Linked DNA regions of Homo sapiens: regions 2 and 3 are each linked to region 1. Evidence: fine-mapped expression QTL. A gene starts in region 1. Each other region holds a variant in brackets. All regions are shown on one strand. Distances are from middle to middle. Region 1 holds the start of ERCC5 (ERCC excision repair 5, endonuclease). Region 2 has its middle 35 kb from the start of ERCC5. Region 3 overlaps BIVM-ERCC5 (BIVM-ERCC5 readthrough).

What was found. PIP is the estimated chance that this variant, and not a neighbour inherited with it, causes the effect. A credible set is the group of variants that fine-mapping cannot tell apart.
Region 2: its variant is the best candidate, but not a certain one, in a credible set for the expression of ERCC5 in whole blood (TOPMed, PIP 0.62).
Region 3: its variant is the best candidate, but not a certain one, in a credible set for the expression of ERCC5 in nasal epithelium (TOPMed, PIP 0.76).

The regions. Positions count from the first base shown.
Region 1 is chr13:102,843,588-102,847,830 of GRCh38, reverse strand. ERCC5 (ERCC excision repair 5, endonuclease) reads right to left here and starts at 1,799. Exons shown (of 15, transcript NM_000123.4): 1 at 1,477-1,799. The coding sequence starts at 1,564. All of the region lies in intron 9 of BIVM-ERCC5 (BIVM-ERCC5 readthrough), which reads right to left. RefSeq lists a silencer at 1,011-1,060 and enhancers at 1,222-2,044, 1,411-2,200, 2,411-2,460, 2,045-2,869.
Region 2 is chr13:102,879,219-102,883,461 of GRCh38, reverse strand. It overlaps the pseudogene METTL21EP. Among named protein-coding and RNA genes, the nearest start is that of ERCC5, 35 kb to the right of the region's middle. The variant C/G (reference allele first, on the strand shown) is at 1,971.
Region 3 is chr13:102,872,624-102,876,866 of GRCh38, reverse strand. BIVM-ERCC5 (BIVM-ERCC5 readthrough) reads right to left here. Exons shown (of 23, transcript NM_001204425.2): 22 at 3,524-3,608; 23 at 872-1,560. The coding sequence ends at 964. ERCC5 (ERCC excision repair 5, endonuclease) reads right to left here. Exons shown (of 15, transcript NM_000123.4): 14 at 3,524-3,608; 15 at 872-1,560. The coding sequence ends at 964. Among named protein-coding and RNA genes, the nearest start is that of ERCC5, 29 kb to the right of the region's middle. The variant A/GAGA (reference allele first, on the strand shown) is at 2,120.

The sequences.
Region 1 (4,243 bases):
TAAATCTTTGCTGAAGTTTTAAGGGTTCTTGTCACTGAAAACTAACCTTTACCCTTTATTTCTGAGAAAATCTTTAGACTGCAATGATACTAAGCAACAGCTTGAGGGCAGCAACAGCGCATGTGCTCTAAAAAACAAAAAACAAAACAAAACAAAACAAAAATCCTTTGGCTTTCCCCAATTCAAAGTACCCTGTATAAAAACTTTTAAGCCAAAAATCAATTACAGATTTATTTAAAGATTATTCACTTGCAAAAAATGATAATCTCATTATGTTTTAAAACTTATCAATGTCGTTTTATTTATAAGTTTTGTACCTACTGAAGAATTAGGGCTCCACAGTCAGGGATTCCTTTGCTGAACGCCCACACACTCTTGCACTCCATTTCCCGTCCCCAATCCCCCCGCAATCATTTACAGGACTCTTTCCACAAGCCCACGAGCCCCTAGACTCATAGATCCCCATTTAGGAAATTGGTGTAAGGTATCACCAGATTCTGAGCCAGAATAGATACTCAAAAAAAAAAAAAAAATGACTACATAACAAAGAAAAAGATAAAAATTTCAAAAGCAGTATCACGTTTTGCTAATGAAAAAAGAATTTAATTCCAATGACAAACAAAACCAGCCAAACATGTACAGAAACAATAGTCCTTAAAAAGTCAATTTAAAAAATGGGTAAAACACCTGTCCACACTATCCTTCCTCTAAGAAACATAAATGGGGCAAGACTCAAGCAAAACTAATCGTCGAAGTCTACTCTGCTCTCCTTACTGACCTCCCGGACAGGATAATAACTTTAAGATTTACTGTATTAATCGCACTAAACTTCTCTCATGTAGGCAATTTCTTTATTCCTCATTCCAATCCTGTGTGTAGATACTATCACCACCTCTACTTTGCAGATGAGAGAACTAAGGCAGAGAGGAACATAAAGCACTGCCACAAAGTGACAAACCAGGATGCACAGGCCGCTAAGACTGCAAAGCTGGGGAAAGCAGACAGGGCGGCCCGCCTCATCACCCGATTCCGCAATCAACCTACCACGGATCAAAAATATTTGCGATGGAAAAAAATAAATAAATAAAACATACCAATAAAAACTACAAAAAATTTTAAAATACAGTATAACAACTATTTACAGATCACTTACATTGCATTCGGCATTACAAGTAAGCTAGAAACGATTTAAAAGATTACGGAAGTGGGTAGTTTATATGCAAATACCACGCCATTATATAAGGGAGTTGAAGGAACTTGAACATCGTGGTATACGGAGGAGGGGCTGGAACCAAAGCCCCGGGGATACCGAGGGACGACTGTACTTAGAAAACCTAGTGACAGAGATTCTATAGCGACCCCGACCCCGACCCAAGACCATCATCCTGCAGATGCCACTGTGCCCAAGGCAGAGCCCCGCGAGGAATCCAGCCCCGAATCCCTGCACCCCAAGTCCCAACGCGGCGTTAAGGATACCAACAGCCAGGATCTTCCCTTCCAGCGCTTCGGGGCTGACCTGCCGCCCGGAGCACTCCAGCAGCTTCCAGAGCCCCTGGACCCCCATGAGGCGGCTGCGTCCTAAGAGCGGACCCCGACAACTTCTACTCTAATTCTTCTACGACGGACTGCACCGCCGCCTAGGACCCCGGGAGGAAGCCCTCCCTGCTCCTACACAACAAAGATGGCAAATAATACAGAAGCCACGGTTTTCCAGTGGGGGACGGCACTAATGGGAGCGCATTAAAGCGGAGAGACTCTGGCTGCAACACGTCTCAGCAGCTGTCACCGCCTCCCGGAAGAAAGACAGGTCCAGAGAATGGCCGTTGGCGGGGAGGGGCAGGGCCTCGCCTCGCCCAGCGCTTAGGCCCAAACGTCTGCGCCGCTAATGGAAGACCGGGGTGCAAGGGCCACGCAGGCGACGGAAACAGCCAGAAGATGTCCCTGCGACACCTCCCGCCTTCGCTGGTGGGTCCGCAAACCCATGAAAAATGGGCCCGCTCGGTTTCCGTCTAATACGACGCGCAGGGCGGAAGCTCCGCCTCCGCACATGACGTATATTTTCTGCGCTTGCAGCACTCCGGAAGTGAGAAGTTTAGCGCCAGTGGTGATGCCTTGGTGGTTACTTGCTTCCGTCACGCTGGCATCCTGAAGGCGTTAAGCATTAAAACAATGTGCAAAAGCGCCTTCTTGGTGGAGTAACGGGCTTTTGTTTTTGTTTGAGACAGGGTCTCACGCTGTCGCCCATACTGGAGTCCAGTGGCGCATTCTTAGCTCACTGCAGCCTGGAACTCCTGCTGCCCGAGCTCAAGCAACTTTCCCATCTCAGCCTCTCAAGTAGCTGGGACCGCAGGTGCGCACCACTATGCTTGGCGAATTATTTTTGTAGAAATGAGGTCTCCCTGTGTTGCCCAGGCTGGGAACTATTTTCTACACGCTTTTTTAGTATCGGTTTCTACCTTTGCGCCGCCGTGTGTGAAGATACTTAACACAAAGTGTTGTTTTACACGTGAAGAGACAACCAAAAGGTGGATGCCTTCTTGGTTTTGTACTATTTATTTATATGCTAGCACGTAGTAACTAAAGAATAATAAAATTTAAAGCCTGTGAAAATGTTAGGGTCCCAAAATTACTAAGCAAAAGGGAAAAGTCAAGCTGGGAACTGCTCAGGGCAAAACCTGCCTCCCATTCTAGTCAGTCATCCTTCTGCTCACTGAGATAGATGCATATTCTGATTGTCTCCTTTGGAAAGGCTTATCAGAAACTCGTATGCAGCCTTTTGTCTCTCATCTACCTGTGACCTAGAAGCCCTTCCTGCTTCCGAGTTGTCCCCACCTTTCTGGAAGGAACCAGTGTACTTACATATGTTGATTGATGTCTCCTGTCTCCCTAAAATGTATAAAACCAATCTGTGCCCCAACCACCTTGGGCACATGTCATCTGGACTTCCTGGGGCTGTGTCACAGCTGCGCGTCCTTAACGTTGGCAAAATAAACTTTCTAAATTAACTGAGACCTGTCCCAAATTTTGGGGGTTCACAAGCCTTAATCCTTGACATATAGTTTAGTTTTCTTCAGCATCTAAAAGTTATAATGCCGCGGCTTGTAGATCAGAAAGGACTAGAAATCAATTAACAGAGTAACCCCAGAAAAGGCCACAGCTCTGGAACCCTCAGGCCAAGATTCAAATCCCCGCATCGTGCCTCACTATGGTGTTTAGCATCCCTGAAGTCACAGTTGTTCAGAATTTGTGTCTCCATCAGTAATCAGGGCATAAAACCAACCTTGCAGACTTCAGTAAGTATTCAAGGTGTTACATGCAACGCACTTAGCACTAGTAACTATAAAGGATAGTATTAGCATCCATATTTGTTCAAATTGGAACGAAATTTAAACTCAGTGAAAAGGCTGACTTAAGGGAGCAGGCAATTTTTTAAAGACTTCTTTATAACAGAAGTATACGGGAAATTGATTTTTTTTATTTTTTTATTTTTTATTTTTTTGACAGGGTCTCACTCTGTCGCCCAGGCTAGAGTGCAGTAGTGCAGTCTCAGCTTACTGCAACTTCCACCTCTCAGGCTCAAGTGATGCTCTTGCCTCAGCCTCCCGAGTAGTTGAGATTACAGGCCCCCACCACCACGCCCTGATTTTTTTTTTTTTGAGACAGGGTCTTGCTTTGTTGCCCAAACTGGTCTCAAACAATCCTCCTGCCTCAGTCTCCCAAAGTGCTGGAGTTACAGACATGAGCCACCGTGCTCCGTGGAGAAATCCATTTTTAGCAAAACCACTTCTATGCTCAATAAGATGGTTCACAGTGGCCATGTTTGGTTGACCTAGTCACATCTAATTTGCTACAGGAATAATCCTGACAAAGTGTTTTTTGCATTTCCTCCATATGTAAAGTAATCCCCAGAAACTGTTCCCAGTTGTTATTTTACTGAGAGTAATATAACTGCCTGTTCAGTATTTGTCTCTTCCCCATGGTAAACTGTAAACTTACTGAAACGAAGAACGATTTTCGTGACTGCTACATCCCCCAATCCTGGCACTTAGCAGTTCTGTAAATATTGCCTAAATGACCTCTTAAGCCTCTAGTCTAAAGCTCTCCAGTGCACCTTGCAGTCTGCTGAAAGAATCTGCTTGGAGGTTAGGCTGATCATTCATTCAGATCTCATCTGAACCATATGTTGCCTTGTGTTATGGTCTGAATTGTGTCCTCCAAAATTCATCTGTGGAAGCCTGAGTAC
Region 2 (4,243 bases), 36 kb before region 1:
GTTTCTGGGTAGCCTGGGGAGTGATGTTGCCATTGAGTGAGATCGAAAATATAGGTGGAAGGGCAAACCTGTAAAGGAAAATTATTTTAAATACATATTACCCTGGTGTGCCACTCAGATTAAGAGAACCTGCCACAAGGAGCAGAGTTGCCCAACACTGCCCATTGCTGCACCTGTGGCTCCTGGGAGACCATGTTCCTCCTGAGGCTGCCTACTCAAGCCAGCCAGTTCCTGTTCCATATAGGACACTCCTCTAGTGGGCAACTCCTGCTCAGGGATTTTCATCAGCCCACCTGAGACTGTCTCAGAATTGTGTTGCAATTGGAGACTCTTCCCATCCAATCTGTCTTCTGTCTCCTCTCACGGGCACTGGACCCATGTTGGGCTCTGAAGGCTCCCCTAGCCTACTTCTGTTTTCTTCCTTATCCTCCACAAACATTTCCCCCAGTAAATCCCTTACATGCTTAGCCCCATTTTGGCATCTATGTCTTGAAGGCCCTAAACTGACAAGAGGTAGTAAGTAGGATGTCAAGTAAGCAGCTGACGTGACAGACTCGAGGGTCATTGAGAGCCAGAATCACTGAGCCTTGGGCAAGGATGAATCTGCCCCAAGGCTGCAGGTCCTCCGGTGACCCTACTATTCTATAACAGATTGCTACGTGTACTAACAGCTGGAGAGAGGCTGCTGGCATGAGGCAGGCAACATAGGATATTTAGAATAGTTAATGTGGGTAAGGTTTTAGACACCTTAGATTACAATATAGCCTTAGAAACACATACAGAAGAATTTTTTAGCACCCACCATAGCCCTAATTTTAATCTGTGTATAAATAAGTGACATCCTATAGTTCTTGGATCTTCATGCCAGTGTTGAAATATGAGCACTGAGCTATGGGTTTGCTCCATCCTTTCCAAGCACAGGATTCTAAGTATAAAAGAGGGCAGGAAAAGTCAGTATCCTTCAGTACTTGAGAACTGAGTGTTCCTCTACTTGGTGATGGCTTTCCAACTAAATGCCACCTGATCTGCTCCAAGGGCACATCCTTAATTCCCTTAGCTCTGTGTGTGTGAACACATTTTTAAAGCTTCATTTGGCTATATAGATGATTACAGAGTGTGTTTGTTTGTGTTGTAAAACATTGTAATGCTAGTTCCGTCTCAACCTTACCTTGAACTTCTTCCACTTCCTTTGTAATTTGCCAAATTATCTTCTACACAGTTGAAACCAAGAATTGTTACTAATGGTAATGATAATGATATAATTTTATTCATAAACCATACAGAAATTGCGTCTTCATTCAAATCATCTAAATGGCTGGGTTCTCTAAGTGATCGACTTAAATGGTTAGGTTTGCAAGAATCGCTTGGTAAAACTATTTGTGTTTAAGCCAGGTAGGCTGCCAACACTGGGCATACACCCAGCTTTCTTGGCCTAAAGATGTGTTCTCCTAGGTAGAAGCCACCTGGAATGGCCAAAAACAGAAAAACCAGAACTATAGTGTTCAGAAAACATCTACAGTGTGTGCAGATAAGGAGAGAACAAAAGAAATCAAGATATTTAGATTTGTATTACAACTGCTCTACAAAAATATGGTAATTTTTCTAGTCTGTCAAGAGTGTATGTCTGTACTTTTGATCTCAAGACAATGGGGACAGTTATATTACATAACCCATGCAAAGTCACGCTTGATACTTAAGACTATATAAAAATGATGGTTCAATTTCAAATAACCACACTGATAGTAGAATTCAAACTTAATCTCTTTACATCCAGAGGTCAAATTACATTATGTATTTGCCTCTAATAAATAGTTAGAGGAACCATAAACTCAGGCTACAGATGTCTGTATAGCCTAAATTCACCTTTCATCCAACCACCAGTAAAAACTTATAGTTTTCACATAAAACTATTTTTATCTTTCTTGCAAGCTTCTTATCTGAAATAAAATTTGCTTAGAAATCACATCATA[C/G]ATTTAGTGTACAGCACTTGAGAAAAAAATGTATTCCTTATTTGAAGATCAAAAACCCTGTACATGCTTAGTAAGTCTATATATTTAATTTAATCTGTCAAAAGTATCTTTAACATATCATCAAGATCATGGTATAGTAATAGACTTAAACATGATTCAAGATGTTTGCAGGCTCACAAATATAAACCAAGACATAATATGCCATTGATAAAAGTGTCAGCTCCATTTAAGACATTAATGAATACTACAAAGGTGACACTTTATATTCTATTAGTTATTTGTCTTCTTAGAATTGGTAAGCTACATAAACATAAAATGACTTACCTTCTTGAGCTTCTGAATCCATCAAGTAATGAAATGATGGTAGGTGATATATTGATGTTTTCTTCATTATTTCTTGAAAACTAGATAGATAATACATTAAAATATCAAATGGTAATAATTCAAAATATGTATGGAGTGCTTTTATAGTTTCTTAATAAAGCTTAACTTCAAATACAGCAGACAAAATTATATTAAAATATCATATATTAACGAAGCGTGACTTAAGAAAGACCATCTAAACACTATCTAGAACAAATTAAAATCAGAACAAAAGCTTCTGAGTCAGAAATTTTAAAAAGCTACTACAGAAAGAAAACATATTCTTCACCAGAGACTACCTCAGTTGTAACAAAGAAAGGCATCATCTTCATATTGACTAGTAAGACTGCAATCCTAAAATTTAAGAGGCGATTAAAACATTGAAAGTTCACTTGTTACCATCAATGCATCATTAGCACCTATGCAATGTCAAACAGCCTCATTGCCAGATAATCTTTTGAGCAGCGTCTACCTTAAGGAGTCCATACCATCACAGCCGATATATTTAAAACTGAAGAAACTATTTATGCCTCTTGAATAGAGCAGATTATCTGAATAAATTTAACAGTTATTCAAACTTTAGAAAATAACGATTTGATATTTTACTTCTCAATCTGGGGTAAAATAACAATTGCAGTACCATGAATTAATATAGCACTCCTTTCTTCCGAGAATCCCAAAGCACATTTTACAGCCACCACATTTTCTTTTACAGCATACTTCAGCAAGTTAGAAGACATTATTTTCCCTACAGTTTGCAAATCAGGAAAACCAAGGTTAAATTATGTCATTGAGGCTACACAGCTAAAACGATAGCAAAAGTGGTCACATGTTTTGCTCCCAATTTAGATCTCTTCCATTAAAGAAAGACATGTCTGCCTTAAGGCTGATATTTAAATGGAAAGCCTGGACATACCTAAAGGAGTTAGCTGAGTTTCTAGAAGGTTAAAATGTATCATCCACAATTTTTGTTTTTGCTGCTGGGACCTCTGGTAGTGACTGAAAGGCTAGCATCGCAGCACAGTTTACTACTATACACACTCGCTACCACTGGTAACGAGTCCAGGCAGAAGGGATTAGGATTCTGACAGCTGCAGCTCCCACGCCTCTGGTTATACAGCAGTGAGACGGCAATGCCCGTAACTAAGGGGGCAGAAGGCTAGGAATATCCCACGAGTGTCTCGTGAACAGAGCTAAAGGTGAATACAACCCACTCCCGGAAGTGAGTGAAGACTATTTGGAGGAAGTGATCCAGCTTTTAACTTGGATGCCAAGAGTTATTCTAAGACTCCGTGGCTATGACATTCTAGGAAATGAACGCTACATATTTTTCATGTCACCTATCTGCATGGGAACACTGTCTTTAGACTCCAACAACCATACTAGAATGTCTGTAGCATTGCTCTGCACCCAGAAATCAAACTACCATGATTCCTTTTTATTCAGACTGAATGGGCAGGCTCCGAACATAGATCCATCTGTGCACCTGCCCAAGTGCATGTATGTGTGCCTCTCAGAGGACATACACATTTCCCATGCCACTGGAAAGATCCCTGATAGAAAGTTACAGAGTTAAGATAAAGCAATATTGGAAAGTTAAACTTAGGAGTGTGACTACAGGTCCATAATGTATACACAGATGAATCGAGGTCACTTTAATGTATTGGAAAGGGCTAGGAGTTGGGAAGCCTGATTTTAGTTATTCCTGCCTATAATTAGATTGTGATTTTAAGCCATTTACTTAGTATGTTTCTTGGTTTCATCATCTATAGAACAAGTATATATCGGCAGGGTGCCTTAGCCTTTGGGAGACCAAGGCAGGAGGACCACTCAGCCCAGGAAATGGAGGCTGCAGTGAGCCGTGGTCACACCACCAAACTCCCGCCTGGGTAGCAGAGCAAGACCCTATC
Region 3 (4,243 bases), 29 kb before region 1:
GGCTGAAGGAAAAAGTCAGGAAAGATGGAAATACTAAAGATGCCAAAAGGACACAGACTTGGGAAGGTAGCTCTGAAGGCAGAGGACCCACGCTCAAAGTAATTGGTAGTACTCTCCTCCAATCATTCTTAACTCGAAGCAAATAGGAGCTTGGGGGTTGTTCTTGGGAGACGTCTCCACAGGAGCAGTCTTAAAATAACCTTCTTTGTCCACTCTGAACAAACACTGTGTCAACAACAATCATCCCCTGCAGGCCACTCCTAAAGCTGACCCACCTACACCAGTTCAACTCCAGCCCCCAGCCTCCAAATCCATTTACACAGAAGTCAGCTTCTAATAAGTGAAGTCTGGTTTAAAAGCCAAACATAACGGTACAGAGGTTCCCATACACTTAATGTTCACAGGTAGAATGATGCACCCCATTTAGGTTTCCTAATTGTTTGCTAAAACCACAGCAAACATATTGAAATATGTTCCAGCAGTGAGGCTCCCTCCTGCTATGCTTTTAAGTGGAACCTGAGGGAAAATGCAAAGCCGTGGGCAGCAGGGCTAAACAGTTGTGTAAAACTGCCACTATTGTGGAATTAGAAACATGCACGTATTTCTTCTCAGCTACGTCTGAATGTCAGAGGGAAAGCCTATTGAGAGTGAGTGCTGATCAATAGAAATCTTTTTCGCTTTTTTAACATGTGACCAGGAAGGATCAGACATTGTTAAGATAATGAAAACATGAAAAGACAAAGCCTGTGAATACAAGATAATATCCAATGATACTTGAAATATTCAGCTAAAAAATACTAGAAAAGTAAAACATTAAAAAACAAATGTCAGATTTAGCATTTGTTTTTAGGAACCACACACTAAATACAAAGACCGTGCCACCAGTTAATTTTATTACGTCTTTGCGACAAATTCATTACAAATGGCTGTCATAACTAATTATAGAGGATACATATTTTTTAATTAGGTTTTCCTTTTTCTTCCCCTCGCACGTCTTAGTTTCCTTCTTTTCTTCCCAAACACAGATCTGGCGGTCACGAGGACCATCTTCTCTTTCCCTCCATCGTCATCACTATCACTAGAGCTGCTGGTGGTCGCACCTCCATTCTTCACGGGAGCTTCCTTCACTGAGTTCTGCGAATCTGAAGCACTGGTTTTTGGCTCTTTCGCAGCTGTTCTCCTTTGTACATTCATTAAAGATGAACTTTCAGCATCTTCACTTGAAGATCCATCAGATGATTCTGAGAGGCAGGTCTCCCCCAAAAATCCACCGCATGTATTCTTTCCTTTAGAATCTGAAAGCCTCTTTCTTTTCAGGCTTGATGACTCTTCTAAGGTATTTGTTATGCCTCTCTTCTGGGTTTTTCCTTTTGCCTTATCAAGTAGCTCAAATTCTTTCTCCATGGCAACAGAAACTGCTTCTATTTCGCTGGCTGCTGCTTCTTTCTCTTTCCTTAGCATACATGTCACAGCTCTGTTTAGTCTCTGGCTCTTAATACGTTTAGCATCTTCTTTCTCCTGTTGTGCTAATCTAAAGAAGGAATCAATTCGGAGCTGTGTCTAAAAAAATAACAAAAGAATAATAATAATAAATCAGACAAGTAAGTCAAGTTTCTAAACCAAATCAACAAGCTCAACCTTGATCACTCACATTGGATTACTATGTCAGAGAATATTAATTCATTATCTCCCAAAACCCAGTTCTCTCCCAGTGAATTACTGACAGTAATTTTCACTTTCTAAATCATACCTAAAGCAGTACTTGTACCATCTCTGTCAACTAAGTCTTTAGTCCACATCTCAAATGAGAAATCTCTTCCTAAGATATTCAAAGAGCGTTAAATATTTTTCTGTAGCTAAACATTTCATCTTCCTCAGGAGCAACACGACTTCATGGGGCCTGTTTCTAAGTCCTACTATATCTTTCTTTTAAAAACATTATCATCATACAATACCTTTGAGAGGCAAGTTCACAGTATATATTAGCAACTGTAAGAAATATTCATGCCTTTTATTCAGTAAATTCACTTTTAAGAAGATATTCTTTGGCCGGGCATGGTGGCTCACGCCTGTAACCCCAGCACTCTGGGAGGCCGAGGTGGGTGGATCACGAGGTCAG[A/GAGA]TCGAGACCATTCTGGCTTACACGGTGAAACCCCGTCTCTACTAAAAAAATACAAAACATTAGCCAGGCGTGGTGGCGGGCGCCTGTAGTCCCAGCTACTCGGGAGGCTGAGGCAGGAGAATGGCGTGAACCCGGGAGGCGGAGCTTGCAGTGAGCCGAGTTCTCACCACTGCACTCCAGCCTGGGAGACAGAGTGAGACTCCGTCTCAAAAAAAAAATATATGGGTAAAGCTATATGCCTAATGTTCATCACAGCATTACTATAACAAACTTGAAAATTAAAGGTCTAACAAGTAAACTGAACTAATTATTTAAATATCTTTCATGAAATATAATCTAGTCATCTGGAATTAAGAAAACCACACAATACATAGAAGAAAATATGCTAATAAGTTGGGGGGGAGGATTAGATCTATTAAGTTACATTTAGTATGGCCACAAATAAATGCAGGAAAATTTTTTAACCTAAATGTTAACAACTGTATTAGAGGAGGTAACTAATGAGTAGTTTTAATTCATTTTCTTCATTTTCTAATTTTGGAAAAATAAACACATTAAGTTTTAGAATGAAAAAGGAGATAAATATTACAACAAAATTTATCTGAAATTAAGAAATCACCAGACACTAAGACAAATAGCTTTCCTTTTTGGTTGGTTTATAATGTTTCCAGTAGATAGTCATCCAAAAAACAAAGAGAAACTCATAGAAATGCTGTCTTAGTTTTGTTCATGTTTTTCAAAATTATCCAAGCCTAATGAAAATGGGTTTAATTTAAATATATTATCACAAAAGCTACATTCTCATTTCTGCTAAGTGGTTTATTTGTATGTATGTTTTGTGGGTTGTTTCTAGTGTGGGCGAAAGCTTGTTTTGTGTGAGTCAGAACATACTCACAGATAAAGCAAGAAGTAGGTACCTAGAGGAACTAAAGGTCATACAAAAGGGCTCCTTCCCACAAAAACCTCTCCTACTGATACACAATAATGACTGAACTTCTACCTTTCAAGATTCGTTTATAGAATTTAAAAATATTAGTACTTATAAAAACTTAAATGATCAGAATTGCTTTGAAGACTTCCTTTCGTTAAAAAATGAAAGTAAATCCCAAGGGGTAATGTATTTAATCAGAAACACCTTAGTGTGAAATCAGTTATTAGACTGGTTTTTTCAAAGAAAAAAATGAATATGAAAGGACTCCAAAGTTCAGCCCTAAGAGTGATCATAGAAAATGAAGCCAAAGTCTAACTTTTCTTTTTCTATTTTCTTCTATTCTCTCATCTAAATTATCCTAATTTCAAAATGTCTGCTCTATGCCCCAAAATAAGAGTTAACTGGTCTTTAACAGCTGTCAACCACAGCCTACCCTTCATCCTGAACTTAGGAGAAGGGTCCACCATGATTACCTGCTGGGCATCGAGTTGCTTTAATACAGGAAACAGAGATTCATCTGTCTTCGTTCTGTTCCAGCCGAAATACCGCTGACAAAATATGCATGCAGTTAAGACTTATAAATATTTTGAAAGATATTTAAACAAGTGACAAATAAAAAGGTCCAAAGAACCCATTCTTGATTCCATTCCCTGTATCTCCTAAGATTTTCCTATTTATAAAGATTAGAGTGCTAAAAGAAAGTACTAACAAAATAAATGACTCCAGCATAATCATCTGGCACTATGTTCTTTTCAATTCTATAAAATAAAACATATTTAGCTCTCACTTTAGGACATCAAAGACTTGTGACTATGAAAAAAGGTTAACTGGAATAAAAACAAGTTTCAGATATCTTGCCTATTTCATTAAGAGAAAAAATCAAACGTAGTTGGATTAATTCTAGTGCAAGTTTTGAAACATCTATCCAAATGATTACTTAAATATACACGGAAAGGACAACCAGTAATAAAAAGGACAAGATTAGTCATCTTTCCTTCTTTCAGAATCAATAATATTTAAGTATGTGGTTATATCTATGAATGCTTATCACTGCTTATTCAAACAAAGACCCTCTTTAAAACTAAGGAGAGGGGCCAGATGCAGTGGCTTGTGCTACTTAGGAGGCTGAGGCAGGAGGATTCCTTGAGCCCAGGAAGTGGTGGCTGCAGTGAGCTATGATTGCACCACTGCAC